Regions from separate parts of the Homo sapiens genome. Here region 2 is linked to region 1. Evidence: fine-mapped expression QTL. A gene starts in region 1. The other region holds a variant in brackets. All regions are shown on one strand. Distances are from middle to middle. Region 1 holds the start of GPR157 (G protein-coupled receptor 157). Region 2 has its middle 18 kb from the start of SPSB1.

The links. PIP is the estimated chance that this variant, and not a neighbour inherited with it, causes the effect.
Region 2: its variant is the best candidate, but not a certain one, in a credible set for the expression of GPR157 in whole blood (TOPMed, PIP 0.54).

The regions. Positions count from the first base shown.
Region 1 is chr1:9,127,083-9,131,468 of GRCh38, forward strand. GPR157 (G protein-coupled receptor 157) reads right to left here and starts at 2,020. Exons shown (of 4, transcript NM_024980.5): 1 at 1,563-2,020. The coding sequence starts at 1,945. RefSeq lists silencers at 1,877-2,226, 2,287-2,606 and enhancers at 3,308-3,377, 3,398-3,517, 3,808-3,897.
Region 2 is chr1:9,272,606-9,276,991 of GRCh38, forward strand. No RefSeq gene overlaps it. Among named protein-coding and RNA genes, the nearest start is that of SPSB1, 18 kb to the right of the region's middle. The variant C/T (reference allele first, on the strand shown) is at 2,675.

The DNA of each region.
Region 1 (4,386 bases):
ACTGTGTTGGCCAGTTGAACTCCTGGGCTCAAGCGATGCTCCTGCCTCGGCCTCCCAAAGTGCTGGGATTACGGGTACAAGCCACCACACTGGGCCTACTTCTTTATCAAAGAAGCCCTTCCTGAACAACACAGAAACCCCCCTAGAGGGTCCGTAATGAGAACCGAACAGAAAAACCCCCAACTCAGGTTTGCTGGGCAATCCTTCTTTTCCACAGAAGCTGGACCAGGTTCTGTTACCATTAAAAAAATACTGTATTCAATATTTTTAAAGACAAGAAGGGAAAGAGAACAGGTTCTTGCAAAGAGAGGTACAGCCTCGACTCCTTCCAAGTACACACGATCTCCCGTGTACTCGGGGCCCACACCCAGCCAGCCATCACGGGACCCAGACAGGGTCAGATGGGATGCTGCCGGGAAGGCAAGGCAAGGCAGGGCCCTATTCCATCTGCAGCATCTGAGCCTCGGTTTGGATGATGTGTTGCAAAGATTTTTTACTTGTACAGCTGAGAAGCAGGTCACTTAGTTTCTCAAGGACCAGCCGGCCTCAGTGCACAACTGAAGGTCAAGCGACTCTTACAGCCCTGTAGCCTTGCCGTGTGACACCCAGGTGACCTGTCTCTGCCAAAGTGCTGACTGTGCTCGCAGTCCTTGGAATGCACTTAAGTTTTTAATAGAAAGGACCTATAATTAGGGCAGTATCTGATGCTCTGATCTGGGAGAAGGAGAAAAGGAAAACAGCCCCTAGGATTCCTGCCCTCAGTTCAGCACAGCACAGGACGCCATGAGATTTTCAAAACCTGACATTCCCCAGGGAAGGGCCGACCCTCTTCAGCGAGGCTTACTTGAAAGACGCTTGAATCGCAAAGTAAGGTCTTGGCTTTTCCCCACTCTCAGAGAGACTCCAGGAGGACTCCGAGACTCCCAGACCAGCCCTCCGCCCCTGCCCTCAATCTCAGAATTGCTGAACTCTGGAAAGTCAAGATCATCTAGAACAGAAATACAAGGGGCTGGGGCCTGAGGCTAGAAACGACCAAAGACAGAATAAAAAGCACAGTCCTTTGTAAACTGTACAGCAGAGACACGGCAGCTCGGGAGTGGCGGAGTGCACCAAGCTCACTGTGGCTTGGGGTGGGGTGGTGGCGTGGGACTGGCAGTTGCCGGCTCTCCAGCCCGGGACAGTTACCTAACTCGTCTCCCAGCCTGTTTCCCCATGGGCAGCAGAGACAGCCAGGACACAGTGAAGCAGGTCACAAGGGGCTCAGAGTGTCCTCCCCAGCCCCGTCCAAGGAAACAGGGCCCGGCTCTGGGGGCGAACTCTGTCCCCACTACCCCAAGGGGCTGTGCCCTGGGGCAGGCACAGCGGGGCTCCTTCGGGAGGGAGCGAATCTCGGGCAAGGCTGGCCTCCTCCCGCTGGCCCAGGACAGCCTCGGGGGCGCCAGCAGGCACTGCTTGCTGTGGGTAGGGGGTGTCCAACCTAGACGCGGCCTCTGGGAGGGCAAGACCGGGAGGGGTCGGCCTGTGTCGGGGGCTCCTGGAAAAGCAGCGCCACCGCCACCCACCTGACGACATGGAAGGCCCAAAGCAGGCGATCTGTGCGAGGCCCGCGCGCGGCGCGGACGATGCTGAGGTACAAGTAGAGCGCAATGGCCACGGTCCAGAAGAAGGAGCTGGTGTTGGCGAAGGTGGACAGCGCGCCCTGCAGCACGCAGTCCCACGACGGGCCCGCGAAGTTCTGCAGCACTCCGTAGAAGTAGGAGGCGGCCGAGAGCAGGTCGGCCAGCGACAGGAAGAGCAGCAGGCGCCGTGCCCGGCTGCGCAGGTCGGGCCACAGGGCGTGCGTGGCCACCAGCAGGCCCGAGCCGAGCGCGGAGAGTGCGCACGACAGCAGCACCACGGCGCGCTCCGACGGCACCAGCTCGGTGGGCGGCGGGGACGGCTGCATGGCGTGGGGGGCCAGGAGCCGGAGCGCCGCGAGGACAGAAGCCGGGCCGCGCGTGCGGCCACGCCGCCGCCGTCTGGGCACCGAGGCGCCCTAGGCTCGCGTCCAGGCGCCCGCCCCGCCCGCGTCCGGCCGCTCCCCCGCCCATCTGGGCCCCGGGCCCTGAACCCCGTCCACGCCCTGCGCCCCGCCCCTATATCCCGGGCCCTGAGCCCCGCCCACGCGCCGCGCCCCACCCCGGTACCCCGGCCTTTAAGCCCCGCCTACACTCCCAGCCCCGTCCCGCCGTCCCAGGCCCTGAGCCCCGCCCACAATCCGAGCCCCGGACACACGTCCCCCGGCCCACATGCCCTTCCCGCCCACACGCCCCCCCCCCGCCCGTGTGCCCCCGCGTTGAGACTGGGACTTAGAGCTCCGCCCACGCGCCCCGATCCCCTGTCCACAGGGCCCAGAGACCTGGGCCTAGAGCCTAACCCACGCGCCCCGCTCCGCCCACGCACCCCGCCACACCCCTGTGTTCCGGGCCCTGACCCTGGCTCAGGTGCCCTTCCTCGTCCCGTTGCCCCGGGCCCTGAGCCCCGCCCCCGCCACGCCCCTGAGGCTTCCAAGCTCCACCCGGTGCCCGAGGCTCCTGAGCCCCGCCCACGCCCTCACACCACGCCCCTAAGCCCCTAGGTCCCTAAGCCCTACCTCAGGGCACCCCCAGGTCCCAGCACCTGTCCCTCCACGCTCCTCCAGGCCCACCCCTGCTCTTGCCAGGTGTCTGGGACATCCAGTCCTGTGAGAGGAAGGGCTGGCATTTTTAGGGCTAATATTACTTTCCCTCTTTTCAGCCAGCTTCTGTGTGTGTTGTGAGTGGAAGGGCGTGAGGATCAGAGGCATTCTTTCCACTAGCAACAGAAACAGCTCTCGGGTATGATCCTCATTCCTTCAGCCGTGATCCCGACGTGTTCACAAGTTGGTGGTGACTTGGGGAAGCCGGCGTTTCCACCTTTTCTTAAAATAAGCATGCTATTTTTTAAAAACCATAGCTAACTAGGTGTGATTTTTAAAAAATGAAATGCTAGGCAGGGCATGGCTTTTTCTTTAAAAATTTCAAACTTTGTAATTAAGATGTAATTCACATACCATAAAATTGGCCCTCTTAACCGAACAATTCAGTAGTATGTTCACAAGTTTGTGCAACCATCATTATTATGTAATTCTACAACATTGTCATTACTCCCAAAAAGAAATCCTTATCCCTCAGCTGTTAGCCCTCAGTTCTCCCCGACAGCCCTGGCAACCACTCTTCTACCGTGGATTTGCTTATTCTGCACATTTCCTGTAAATAGACTCATATGCTCTGTGGCCTTTATGTCTGACTTTTTTAACTTAGCACGTTTCCAAGGTTCATCGTAGCATATGCAGTGCTTCATTCCTTTTACTGCCCCGTAATATTCCATTATATGGATATACCACCTTTTTTTTTTTTTTCTAGAGACGGAGTCTCCCTCTGTCGCCCAGGCTGGAGAGCCGTGGCATGATCTCGGCTCACTGCAACCTCTGCCTCCCGGCTTCAAGCAGTTCTCCTGCCTCAGCCTCCCGAGTAGCTGGGACTACAGGCACACGCCGCCACGCCCGGCTAATTTCTTTTCTATTTTAGTAGAGGTGGGGTTTCACCGTGTTGCCCAGGCTGGTCTTGAACTCCTGAGCTCAGGCAATCTGCCTGCCTTGGCCTCCCAAAGTGCTAGGATTACAGGCATGAGCTACCGCGCTCGGCAGGATATACCACATTTTACTTAGCTATTATTCATCAGCCGATGGACATTTGGGTTGTTAACACTTTTTAACTATTAAGAATAATACCACTATGAAAATTTGCATACAAGTTTTTTTGTGGGTGTATGTTTTCAATTCTCCTATGTGTATACCTAGGAATGGAGTTGCTGGGCCATACGCAACTTTATATTTCACCTTGTGAGGAACTGCCAAGGTGTTTTCCAAAGTGACTGTACATATCATTTTACATTTGCACTAGCAATGAAGGTCGCAATTTCTCTACATTCTTCCAAAACTTTTTTTTGAGACAAGGTCTTGTCGCCGAGGCTGGAGTGCAGGTACAACCACAGCTCACTGCAGTCTCAAATTCCTAGGCTTAAGAATTCTCCCACCTTGGCCTCCCCAGTAGTTAGGACTTCAGGTGCATGTCACCATGCCCCACTAATTTTTTTTTTTTTTTTTTTTTGAGACTGAGTCTCGCTCTTGTTGCCCAGGTTGGAGTGCAGTGGCGTGATCTTGGCTCACTGCAACCTCTGCCTCCCGGGTTCAAGCGATTTTCCTGTCTCAGCCTCCTGAGTAGCTGGGATTACAGGTGTGCACCACCACAACCTGCTAATTTTTGTATTTTTAGTAGAGACAGGGTTTCACTGTATTGGCCAGGCTGGTCTTGAACTCCTGACCTC
Region 2 (4,386 bases), 150 kb after region 1:
GCAGAACTTAATAGATACTGGAGCTAGTAGCTTTGTTATGTATTTCCGGAAGCCCAGCAGAAACCCCACACTGACCTAAGTAAGAAGGTGATTCTCATGAACCAAGAGGACAGATCCTTCTGTTTGGGGTCAGGGTTTCAGCAGTCCAGTGTGGCAACACCAGTTGGGTGGCCCCTGCTGTGCAGCATCAGTTTCTTCTTGCTTAATTGGAACTGTTTTCCTGATAGACCATAGTTTTGGAGATGCAGGGACAGATGGAAGGGCAGGAGGGGAAGAGTTGCGCAAATCATAAAAGAAGCCGTGGTGAAGACAAGCTCAGGAGCTGCCAGCCTGAGTCCACCTTCTCCAGGGTCTCTTACAAGCTCTTTACAGACAGCCAGAGCCCGGGTGGGGTCAGCCAGCTGCCCCTCGCCACCCAGCTCCCAGCAGAAGGGGAGGGGATGCGGCTCCACCCATGCCCTCTCTTACCCCCATCTTCCCACTCACCTGTCGGGCTGAGGACCACGAAGGCAGAGACTCCATACATTCTGCTCCTTTTCGTGTTTCTGGCACTTTACACGCCGCCCTGCAGTGAATGTGTGAGTGAATGAATGAGTGAATGGCAATAAGGAAAGAGAGTGGTCAGCAAGGCGGCTGGAGGGGTGGAGGCCTGAGCGGGTGTGGGGCCAGCGGTGAGCCTGGCACGTGTCATCCTCTCTAGGGGAGGGAGGGTCTAAGCACATGGGTCTCCTGTGCCCAGAGTGGCCAGGGCCTAGGGGTGCAATGGATGTGGTCCAGCCATGGCAGGCCACCACGCTTGTTGGCACCGTGGGATAGGGCCACGCAGAAGCAGGGCAAGGTCTGACCCCCGCTCCTGACAGCTCCCACTGGCTGCTGATGGAGAGCAAAGCCACGGTCAGCGCCCACTGCTGGACGCTGCAGCAGGGATGGCAGCCAGGGGGGCCCCCAACAGCTTAGGGCTGCTCTGTCCCCCTGGAGAGGTCTCACTACAGCCCTTTCCTTTCCCCCGTCCCCACTCACTGGCTGCGGAAACCCAGCCTCATGAGTTCTGTTTGTCTGAAGAAGCATCGTTGGGAGGAAAAATTATCAAACTAAGCTCATGCTATCAGTCAGGCCCTCCTCCTACTCCGTATGTCTTTATTTTTTTACTGAAAAAAATAAAATACAGTAAGCACTCGGATGAGAATATTAATCCATGGAGATTGCCCCCTTCAGCATTCACTGTATGAGGCCTTTTTATATTTGCTTTTTTAAAAGAAAAAAATATATATATTTTTTGATGGCAAAAACCTGGACACACATATTTTTGTAAAAATCACACATGCTTGTTACAAATGCATTGAAACAGTGCAGAAAAGTACACAAATGTGTGTAAAGAAAATCACTGTCGTCCAGCCCTCCAGAAACGAACAACAGTAACAACGGGTGCACATCCTTCAAGACACGGATGCAAATAGAAGATTCAAAATATTTCGTAAAAATGGGATCCTCCTCTTGATGCTAATTTTAATCTTAATACTTAATAAATAATAGTGCATTAATAATTTTACTAGAAACTGAAGGAATTTCATTCCATTCAGAAATATATTTTGTCACACAATCAATATCATTTCCCAAAAGGTCTCTTTAACATTAGAAGTGTATGAAAAGCCAGGTGCGGTGGCTCCCGCCTGTAATCCCAGCACTTTGGGAGACCGGGGCGGGCAGATTATCTGAGGTCAGGAGTTCGAGATTAGCCTGACCAACATGGCGAAACCTCGTCTCTACTAAAAATACAAAAATTAGCTGGGCGTGGTGGCAGGTGCCTGTAATCCCAGCTGCTGGGGAGGCTGAGGCAGGAGAATCGCTTGAACCCAGGAGGTGGGGGTTGCAATGAGCTCTAATCACGCCACTGCACTCCAACCTGGGGGGACAGAGCGAGACTCTGTCTCAAAAAAAAAAGTAGTTTATGGAAAAACATTAAGTCTGAAGTCCTTAATGAATTTTAATGTGATTTTTAACTCCCTGAATCAGTTTTGATTGGGGGTGTCTACTGACTTTGACAAATACGGACATTGATTCTCCATCACTTCCCATTTCCTGGCTTCCAACTCTGGATTTTTTTTTTTTTTTTTTTTTTTTTTTGAGATTACTCACTCTGTCACCTAGGCTGGAGAGCAGTGGTGCGATCTCGGTTCACTGCAGCCTCTGCCTCCTGGGTTCAAGTGATTCTCCTGCCTCAGCCTCCCAAGTAGCTGGGACTACAGATGTGCACCACCATACTTGGCTAAGTTTTGTTTTGTATTTTTAGTAGAGATGGGGTTTAGCCATATTGGCCAGGCTGGTCTCGCACTCCTGACCTCAAGTGATCCACCCATCTTGGCCTCCCAAAGTGCTGGAATTAACAGGTGTGAGCCACTGCTCCCGGCCCCAACTCTGGATTTTTGTAGGCACATTATTTTTTCTTGCTATTCTCCAGGATCCTTCATTGTTCCTTCCTTGTTGGCTCTGTCCGACTTGCCTCCTGTGGGCTCCCACCTGGCTGCCTCCCACTTCTAATGCCCAAACTCCAGGCACCGTCTGCTGTCCGGGAGGATGGAGGTATGACCACGTCTCATTTGTCTTCCTGCTTGTGGAGCACCCTTCTTCTCTGTGTCCTTCTCTTACTGGGGCCAGGGCTGCCCCATATTCTGGC[C/T]GTGTCCATCTGTCCCTCACGCATGTGGACAGGCAGGCTGACCACACAGCCTTGCACCGCCCAGCACGCGGGGCTCAGGTCCTAACAACTGCTGACTGCTGGCTCAGGGCTGGGCACTGTTCCAGGGGATACCAAGGAACCAAGACCCCGTCTTCCTGGGCCGTATGCTTTTTGTTCTCTTGAGTCTTGCATTGCTCCCTTATTTGGGGTTCACCCATCCATCTTCAAAAGAGTCTTCCTTACCCTCTGCTGCCCCTGCCAGCTCTCACCATTTTAACCCAAAGACTTTAAAGACGATAAAGGCACTATCTCGAAGGCCACCACTGCCCTCCTGCAGGACAAATGCACAGCTTGGAGGTTGCCACCGCAAGAGGGTAAGAGGCCACCACCCCCACAACAGCTGACTCATAGCTCGGGTAAGAGGCCACCACCCCCACAACAGCTGACTCACAGCTCGGGTAAGAGGCTCCCAGTTTGCAGATGCGAAACCAAGGCTTGAAGTCACCTATCTTGCCCGAGATGACAGCTGGCAAGTGGCAACGCTGCTAGAGTCTGCCCGAGCCCTTAGTGCACTCCCGTAACCAGCAGGTCACACTAGGAGCAGCTACTCCAGGGAGAGGAAGAGCTGACACTGGGCAAACCCGCAGCTCCAGCCACCAGCAGCCGACCCATTGCCAGACACTGTGTTACATCTCCAGTCTGTATCAGGCCCCCAGGGCCCCCAGGTCAGGACTCCAACCAAGATTGGGATCCAGTTTGCTCAGCTCTGGCTTCTCCCTGGGGAAGTGTCTTCCTACTGAGCCACAGCAGAGAACATCATTCACTTGGGGCAGGAGTTGTCACCAAGGCCTGCTGGCTGCCACCAAATCTAGGAGACTAGAACAATGTCTGCCAATCCTGAGAGCAGGTCCAGAGGGGTAACTTTTATCTTTATTGCCTGGGCTGCTCTATCGTCCTCTTCCTTTATTCTCTTTGTGAATTTAATTATGGGGGGCACATAGCCGAGGTTTGTCTGCCTTCTCACTTCTACCCCAAAGGGAAGGCAGTTTGTTAAGGGTGAATTTTCTCCCCTTGGATTTCTATTTATGTATAAAAACTACCTTGGGCCGGGTGCAGTGGCTCACGCCTGTAATCCCAGCACTTTGGGAGGCCGAGGCAGGAGGATCACTTGAGGTCAGGAGTTTGAGACCAACCTGACTAACATGGTGAAACCCCGTCTCTACTAAAAATACAAAACATTAGCTGGGCGTGGTAGTGCACGCCTGTAATCCCAGCTACTTGGGAAGCTGAGGTGGGAGAATTGCTTGAATCCTGGAGGCGGAGGTTGCAGTGAGCCAAGATTGCGCCACTGCACTCCAACCTGGGTGACAGAGTGAGACTCTGTCTCAAACAAACAAAAAAATTCATCACGTAACGAAAAACCATTTGTTGGCAATTGAAATAAAATATATATGTATATATAATATTCTAATGAAAAAATATAAAAATAAAATGACCCAGTAGGTACAAATTTCTTTGTAATGGAAGACAAATGCTGATATAATTTAAATCACAATAACAGCCAATGGCCTAAAAAAGAAAGGAAGGGAGGGTTTAGAAGACTCTCGAGATAGCCCAGGCACAGGTGGAGGCCCAGAAAAGCTTTAGGTCAGGAGAAAGGCGTAAACCCCAGGTCACTTGCTATGTAGGCAGCTGCAGGGATGCAGGGCACC